Linked DNA regions of Homo sapiens: regions 2 and 3 are each linked to region 1. A link means that fine-mapping ties the variant in region 1 to the plasma level of a protein whose gene starts in the linked region. Region 1 holds a variant in brackets. A gene starts in each other region. All regions are shown on their forward strands.

Region 1 (2,851 bases):
AGCCACTAAAAAAGTGAAATGTGCTTGGGAGAATCGGCCTGCCTGCAGGGTAGATGCCCTTTCTCTCTGCTGGCCAGCTCTGCCCCTCAGTGAGAAACTTTACATATTGCTAAGATGCCTGGCCAATGAAACAGTTCCAGAGACTTTATGTCCCCCAGTAGAAATATGAATAGAAATCACCCTGTGGGCAATGGTCCCATTTTAAAATATGCTGTCCCATTGTCCCCTAGAGCCTACTTTAACTTGTCAGACCATGTATTCCACTTCATATGCAAGAGGCATGCACTGAGCCCATAGGTGGCTAGGCAAACACCCAATAGCTCCCTGAAATGGCTTCATTATGCAGCCTCGACAGCCACCCCAACCCTCCCACTCTCACACTGAAACACCCAGACCTAGAGATAGCTAGACACACCCAGACACCCGCCAAGCCCCTCACATACAGATATGTGCACAATGATACACAGCAAACGTACACAGAGTTCAGTACACACAAAGAGCTCACGCCCACGTGCACACACCCCTCAGTTGGGACAGAGTTGACCACCACCACCTTTCTCCCAAACACATGGCTTTTGAACTGCCTTTCCTTGGATCCAGTTCAAGGGGATGGAGGAGCAGTGAGAGTCAGCCGCCCTTCCACTCCAATTTCCCAGCACCTCCCTTATCTCTGCCTCACAAGTCACCCAGCCCCCCTCTCTTCCTTCCTTGTGCTTGAAGAATCTCTCCTTGCTGGAAAGCCCCCTGTTTTCTCAATCTCCCTTTCCACTTCGGTAAAATCTCTACTTGCTGGAAAGCCCCCTGTTTTCTCAATCTCCCTTTCCACTTCGGTAAAATGCCCACTTTCTGGTCCCCACCTTTTTCCTGAGTGTAGTCCCAACCAGCCAAATCCAACCTCAAAACAGGAAGACCCAAGGCCAGTGACCCCCATAGGCCTGAGGCTTGTGCAGGCAGTGGGCGTGGGGTAAGGCTTCCTGATGCCCCCTGTCCCTGCCCAGAACCTGATGGCCCTCATTAGTCCTTGGCTCTTATCTTGGAAGCACAGGCGCTGACAGCCGTCCCAGCCCTTCTGTCTGCGGGCCTGAACCAAACGGTGCCATGGGGAACTGTCTGCACAGGGTGAGTATGGGGCCAGGCCCCAGAGTCCCTTATCCCTATGCCCCTCATTTCCCCTGCTGTTTGCCCCTCAGTCTTTATATCTCTTCCTTTTCCTCCTCATCTTTTCTCCCTTCCTGCTTTTTTCCTCTTCCTTCAAAGTCTTTTTCCTTCTCTCCTTCCTATGCTAGCCTCCTAGCTCCCTCTTGTGTCCCTCCCTTTGCCTTTGAGTCAGTTCCATCCTGGTCTCTTGGTGCCTTTTCCTTCTGACCTTGCACTGCTCCTCCAGCCCCAGCTGCCCTGGCTTCCCCAGGACTGTTCCTGCTCCGGCTCTTCAGGCTCCCTGCTTTGTCCTTTTCCACTGTCCGCACTGCATCTGACTCCTGCAGAGACCTTGTTCTCCCACCCGACCTTCCTCTCTGTCCTCCCCTCCCACCTGCCCCTCAATTCCCAGGAGACTCTTCCGGTGTAACTCTGATGGCCTCCTCTGGGTATGTCCTCCAGGCGGAGCTCTCCCCCTCAACTGAGAACTCAAGTCAGCTGGACTTCGAAGATGTATGGAATTCTTCCTATGGTGTGAATGATTCCTTCCCAGATGGAGACTATG[G/A]TGCCAACCTGGAAGCAGCTGCCCCCTGCCACTCCTGTAACCTGCTGGATGACTCTGCACTGCCCTTCTTCATCCTCACCAGTGTCCTGGGTATCCTAGCTAGCAGCACTGTCCTCTTCATGCTTTTCAGACCTCTCTTCCGCTGGCAGCTCTGCCCTGGCTGGCCTGTCCTGGCACAGCTGGCTGTGGGCAGTGCCCTCTTCAGCATTGTGGTGCCCGTCTTGGCCCCAGGGCTAGGTAGCACTCGCAGCTCTGCCCTGTGTAGCCTGGGCTACTGTGTCTGGTATGGCTCAGCCTTTGCCCAGGCTTTGCTGCTAGGGTGCCATGCCTCCCTGGGCCACAGACTGGGTGCAGGCCAGGTCCCAGGCCTCACCCTGGGGCTCACTGTGGGAATTTGGGGAGTGGCTGCCCTACTGACACTGCCTGTCACCCTGGCCAGTGGTGCTTCTGGTGGACTCTGCACCCTGATATACAGCACGGAGCTGAAGGCTTTGCAGGCCACACACACTGTAGCCTGTCTTGCCATCTTTGTCTTGTTGCCATTGGGTTTGTTTGGAGCCAAGGGGCTGAAGAAGGCATTGGGTATGGGGCCAGGCCCCTGGATGAATATCCTGTGGGCCTGGTTTATTTTCTGGTGGCCTCATGGGGTGGTTCTAGGACTGGATTTCCTGGTGAGGTCCAAGCTGTTGCTGTTGTCAACATGTCTGGCCCAGCAGGCTCTGGACCTGCTGCTGAACCTGGCAGAAGCCCTGGCAATTTTGCACTGTGTGGCTACGCCCCTGCTCCTCGCCCTATTCTGCCACCAGGCCACCCGCACCCTCTTGCCCTCTCTGCCCCTCCCTGAAGGATGGTCTTCTCATCTGGACACCCTTGGAAGCAAATCCTAGTTCTCTTCCCACCTGTCAACCTGAATTAAAGTCTACACTGCCTTTGTGAAGCGGGTGGTTTCTTATTTTGTCTGGGGAGAAGAAGGAGAATGGAGAGAGAGACATTTTTATGTCAGACTTTCTTGCCAGTGTCTGCTTCTATAGCTGGCTTGGGAAGAAGGTGAATGATGAATAAATACCCTCAGGGTACACAGATGTTCTCTTGAGGTGTGGGGTCACGGCCATCTCAAGGGAGAAGAGAAGAGGAACCAGAGCATGAGGG
Region 2 (2,851 bases), not on the chromosome of region 1:
TTCCATTAAAGAAAAGAAACAGAAACCTCTGTCCCATGCAACTTACATCCCAGTAGGATGGGGGTGGGGGTACAGGTGGGAGACAGATAGTAAACAGCAGACATAAGTAAGCGAATGGCCTAGCATGTCAGAGGATATAAGCATTTCAGCAAAAAAAAAAAAAAAAAAGAGCAGAGGAAGAGATGGGGATGGCATGCAATTTGACTTCACTGAAAGATGTAATCTAAACAAATACATATATATATTTATAATATATATAATATATATTATTATCTATAATATATATAATATATATTATTATCTATAATATATATAATATATATTATTATCTATAATATATATAATATATATTATTATCTATAATATATATAATATATATTATTATCTATAATATATATAATATATATTATTATCTATAATATATATAATATATATTATTATCTATAATATATATAATATATATTATTATCTATAATATATATAATATATATATTATAATATATATAACATATATTATATATAATATATATATTATAATATATATATTATATTATAATATATATTATAATATATATATTATATTATAATATATATTATATTATATATATTATATAATAATATATATATTATAATATATATATTATATTATATATATGTTATATATATTATAAATATATATTTTATATATATATAATATATATTTATAATATATATAATATATATTTATAATATATATAATATATATTTATAATATATATTATATATATTATAAATATATATAATATATATATATATATATTTTTTGAGATAGAGTCTTGCTCTGTTGCCCAGGCTGGAGTGTAGTGGTGTGATCTTGGCTCACTGCAACCTCTGCCTCCTGGGTTCAAGTGATTCTCCTGCCTCAGCCTCCCAAGTACCTGGGACTACAGGCACCTGCCACCACGCTCAGCTGATTTTTGTATTTTTAGTAGAGATGGGATTTCACCATGTTGGCCAGGCTGGTCTCGAACCCCTGACTTCAAGTGATCCACCTGCCTCGGCCTCCCAAAGTGCTGGGATTACAGGCGTGAGCCACCACGCCCGGCCTAAAAAAGTTTGAAAAAGGTGAAGGAGTGAGTCCTGCAGGTATCTGGGGACAACATTCCAGGCTGAAAGAACAGTCCGTGCAAACCTCCTCAGGAAGGAGCATGTCTGTCTGGTTGGTTTGAGGCATAGGGAGGAGGCCAGGGTGGCTGGGGCAGAGTGAACCAGGGAACCAGGAGATACAGGTGGGCAGAGAGCAGGGCACAGAACTCGCGGGGCCTCGTGGCTGCTGGAGGGTCTTGGACTTGTCCTCTGCGTGAGGTGGAGAGCCACGGGGACGTTCTGAACACGGGAGATTCATGGTCCCTCTGCTGCTGTGCTGAGAATACACTGTAGGGGGCAAGGATGGAGACAGGGAGAGCACCCAGAAGGCAGTTGTAGGAAGCCAGGGATTGATGCTGGTTTCTGGGTGTATTTGGAAAGCAGAGACATGAGCTCACCCAACAGATGGGAAGTTGGGGGCGAGAGGAAGAGGCGTCAGGGATAGCGCCCAGGTTTCTGGCCCTAGTAACCGGAAGGAAGGGGCTGGCAGAGAAGGAGGAGAGAGCAGGTGTAGGGGTGGGTGGGAATCAGAAATTCAGCTTCAGACTTGGGGGGTTGGAGCTGCCTATTTGGTATGGCGAGTAGGCAGCTGGACGTAGAAGGAGGCTGGAGTTTGCGAGAGAAACTTGGGAGTGGTTGGCATATAGATGATATTTAAAGTCAGAAACGTGTACTATTTGCCAGATATAAGCAGTAAGGCAGTTGATGCAAACCAAAGCCTTCTAATGTAATTATTGTTATTATTTTCATTTTGCAGCTGTAGAAACTGAGGCTCAGAGAGAAGTGACTTTGAGCTCACAGTGTCACCGCCTGCTGATGGGAGAGCTGAATTCAAAACCAGGTGACCTGACCTAGAGTCTTTGCTCCTAACCCCTCCACTGTGAGGTGACCCCCTCGCTGGATCTTTCAGGGCATGTGTTAGATGAGCGGTGGATGGACTTTGGATCAAGGGAAGATAATCCATACAAGAAGGGGACAGGAGTTTGGAAGCAGCAAACCAAGTCACAAAGTGAGGGGACGCACTGGCCCTCAAGAAAGCTCAATGTTGGGGAGCAGGGAGATGAGACTGAATAGGAAGGAGGGGCTAGATGGAAGGTACAGCTTCAAGATTGGCCTGAAAAGTTTTGACTGGATGGGGAAGGAAGCAGGGAGCCATTGACGGTTTTGGAGGAAGGGGGCATTACATGGTCAGGGCAGCCCTTGTGAAAGATCCACCACATGTGGGCATGCAGCTGATGAGGGAGGTGTCAGGAGAGACCAGAGAGGAAGAAATAGGCCCAGAAGTTTTTGAGACTCTCTGGGTGTGAAGGATGAGGGCTGAGCCAGTGGAGATGAGAAGGAAGCAAGGAAGCCAAGCTCCCACTGAAGACAGCGCTGGGCAGAGTCTCTGCCTGATGTAATGTGGGGGATGGAGGCGAGGAATGAGTCAAGGGCAAAGTTTCAGACTTGGGGGCAGATGGGGAGATGGGAAACAATGCTGGCTTGAACAGAAAAAAAGGAGGCTGGTGTGAGAGGGAACTCGGTTTTGCCCTTCTGGTACCTGGGGCTGAGTGAACCATAGCAGGACAGACTTCTGCTTCCCAGCAGCTCACAGGTTAGTGTGGGGGACAGAACTGCACAGAGCTGGCCAGGCTGCAAGGCAGAGAGAGCTGAGGGGTGCCACAGAAAGATGGGCCGGAAGGAGGAGTGTCCAGGTGGGTGTGTCTGATTAGTTACTGGTCAGGGC
Region 3 (2,500 bases), not on the chromosome of region 1:
ATTAGTATCCTGCTCTTACCCTAGCAGAGAGTGGTTAAGTAAGTTGTCCATGGTATCACAGCTAGTCAGTCACAGAGCCATCATCCAAATGCAGATATCCTGAATTCAGGTTCTACATTAGACTAACCCACCAGGAATGGAGCAGGAAAGAACAGGGAAGACTCCACATTTTTGGCCTCTATTTGGTAATTATAGTTAACTTTTTAGGTAATTATAGACCAATTATCCTAGATGGGCACTTAGAGACTTTGCAGGACAGCAAGAGCTGTCTCTAATCCTGTGCCCATGACAGACATCACCAGTCAACCACAACACAGTATTTAACTAACGCAAGTCAACTCCTCAGAATCTTTAACATTCTTGTTTGTGCTACTGTACCAATCAATCAATTTGATATGAGAGTGTGCAGGAAAAAACAGGAAACAGGTTTGCAGTACCTCCACACCAGTATTCAATGCTGTAATCCGCTGCAGTGACTCCATTAAAGACTTTGCCTCCCTTATACCCTCTCCAACTAGGGTGCCTAGTGTTATGAACAAAGGGATATGTATAGGTTCTTGTGTTGCCTCTCTCTTTGATATTTTTAGCCATCAGATACCTTGTCTGCAATGTGTGCTCAGAGAGTGAGGGGGGAACTAGATGATTGATTTTCCAAATGTGTTCCCTAAATGTGTTCCCTGGGGAATAAGGGCACGAGAGGCTGCCTATTCTATTTCAAACAAATCCCCTTCACTACAGTGTATTTGATGAGTTGGGGTTTGTTTTAATTCCATTTGGAAAAGGGCTTTAGCAGCTAAGCAAATGGTTTTAAAGTGCCTCAGAAGTCAAGATTAATAGAAACTATCCAGTTCTGATGTCCTATCATGCTAAAATTTCAGGGACTAAGATTCTGTGATCATTACATTGAAACACAGCAGCAAAGCTGTGGTGTGTTGTCCTTCCTGGTTCAGAGATGCAACTATGTGCAGGGCTGCTGAGCTCTCTCTGCATCTGGGTGGGAGCCTAATGGAAGTTTTGGGGCTCCTTCCTGGTCTCCAAAATCCTCAAGACCACCATGTGAACACAGGAATCAAGGAAGGTTCTTAGATCGACTCATCCCCCAGGCCTTTGGTTTCCTTGCTCCTTTCCCCAACTACAGGTGTTTCATTTCAACTCATCCCCTAGGGCCTTGGTTTTCTTGCTCTCTTCCCCCACTACAGATGTTTAACTTCATTTCATAACCACATATTCCCCTCCTTTTCCAAGGCAAGATCCAGATGGATTAAAAAATGTACCAAGTCCCTCCTACTAGCTTGCCTCTCTTCTGTTCTGCTTGACTTCCTAGGATCTGGAATCTGGTCAGCAATCAGGAATCCCTTCATCGTGACCCCCGCATGGGCAAAGGCTTCCCTGGAATCTCCCACACTGTCTGCTCCCTATAAAAGGCAGGCAGATGGGCCAGAGGAGCAGAGAGGCTGAGACCAACCCAGAAACCACCACCTCTCACGCCAAAGCTCACACCTTCAGCCTCCAACATGAAGGTCTCCGCAGCACTTCTGTGGCTGCTGCTCATAGCAGCTGCCTTCAGCCCCCAGGGGCTCGCTGGGCCAGGTAAGCCCCCCAACTCCTTACAGGAAAGGTAAGGTAACCACCTCCAGAGCTACTAGGTCAGCAAGAATCTTTACAGACTCACTGCAAATTCTCCATTTGAAAAATAGGGAAACAGGTTTTGTGGGTGGACAAGAAATGCCTCAACCTCACATCCAGTCACTGGAAGAGCCAGAACTAGAAAGCTCCCGAGTCTTTTCCCCACATTCAAGAGGGTTGCTGGGTGCATCCATACCCAGCTATCCTTACAGTGTTTGGGAATGGGGAATGGCTCTGTCTTACTGTGGGCATGGTGGGCATTTTTGGCAGTGGGAGAGAAGGAAAATCTGTTGATTAGAAGCTCAGTATGTTAATTCGACTCCAGGACAGCTTTCAGAGACAGTGGCTAAGAGAAGAACGAGGTCCCAGGGGGATCTCTTGAGGTGACTTATTTTGACACTCTTTGGGAAAGTTATCTAGGAGATTTGTTCCATAACTCATTTTCCCATACTCTGGTGACAAATTTACTGAGTGTATCGGTCCCACTGAGCCAGTGCATAGCATGGTAACAAACAGTTCTAAATTATCAATGACTTAACAGAATTAACTAAATTAACAAAAGTTACTTTCTCACTTGTACTAAATATCTATAATGTATGGGCTCAGGCTTCTGCATTTTATACTCAGGATTCTAGACTGATGGAGAAGTTGCCCATGTGGGGGAACATTGATGGATACTGTGATAAAGCAGAAGAAAGCTCTCAGGAGTCTTGCATAGGCAATGCACTGTGGCTCAAAAATGACACCCATCACTTTGTCTCCTTCTTTATTGATCAAAACTAATTAATGCCTCCAACCAAACAAAAGTGGCCAAGAAATGCAAGTCTACCTTGTGTCTCAAAACAGAGGATGGAGAATATTTGGTGAAAATTAC

Which allele goes with the higher level. Positions count from the first base shown, and alleles are read on the strand shown. Strength reflects both the effect of a copy and how common the allele is.
In carriers of allele A in region 1, the plasma level of the protein whose gene starts at base 1,897 in region 2 tends to be higher than with G alone (weak association).
For the plasma level of the protein whose gene starts at base 1,448 in region 3, G is the low allele of the variant in region 1 and A is the other (moderate association).

Evidence for each region. PIP is the posterior inclusion probability: the model's chance that the variant is causal. The UK Biobank Pharma Proteomics Project read protein levels with antibody pairs (Olink). The fine-mapping took linkage between variants from a reference panel, not from the people measured, so its PIPs are less certain.
Region 2: CCL17 starts here. The variant in region 1 is fine-mapped to the plasma level of the CCL17 protein (UK Biobank, PIP above 0.99).
Region 3: CCL11 starts here. The variant in region 1 is fine-mapped to the plasma level of the CCL11 protein (UK Biobank, PIP above 0.99).

The regions. Positions count from the first base shown.
Region 1 is chr1:159,203,862-159,206,712 of GRCh38, forward strand. It overlaps ACKR1 (atypical chemokine receptor 1 (Duffy blood group)), which reads left to right and starts at 1,014. Exons shown (of 2, transcript NM_002036.4): 1 at 1,014-1,119; 2 at 1,600-2,639. The coding sequence starts at 1,099. The coding sequence ends at 2,589. The variant G/A (reference allele first, on the strand shown) is at 1,703.
Region 2 is chr16:57,402,871-57,405,721 of GRCh38, forward strand. CCL17 (C-C motif chemokine ligand 17) reads left to right here and starts at 1,897. Exons shown (of 4, transcript NM_002987.3): 1 at 1,897-1,966.
Region 3 is chr17:34,284,295-34,286,794 of GRCh38, forward strand. It overlaps CCL11 (C-C motif chemokine ligand 11), which reads left to right and starts at 1,448. Exons shown (of 3, transcript NM_002986.3): 1 at 1,448-1,590. The coding sequence starts at 1,515.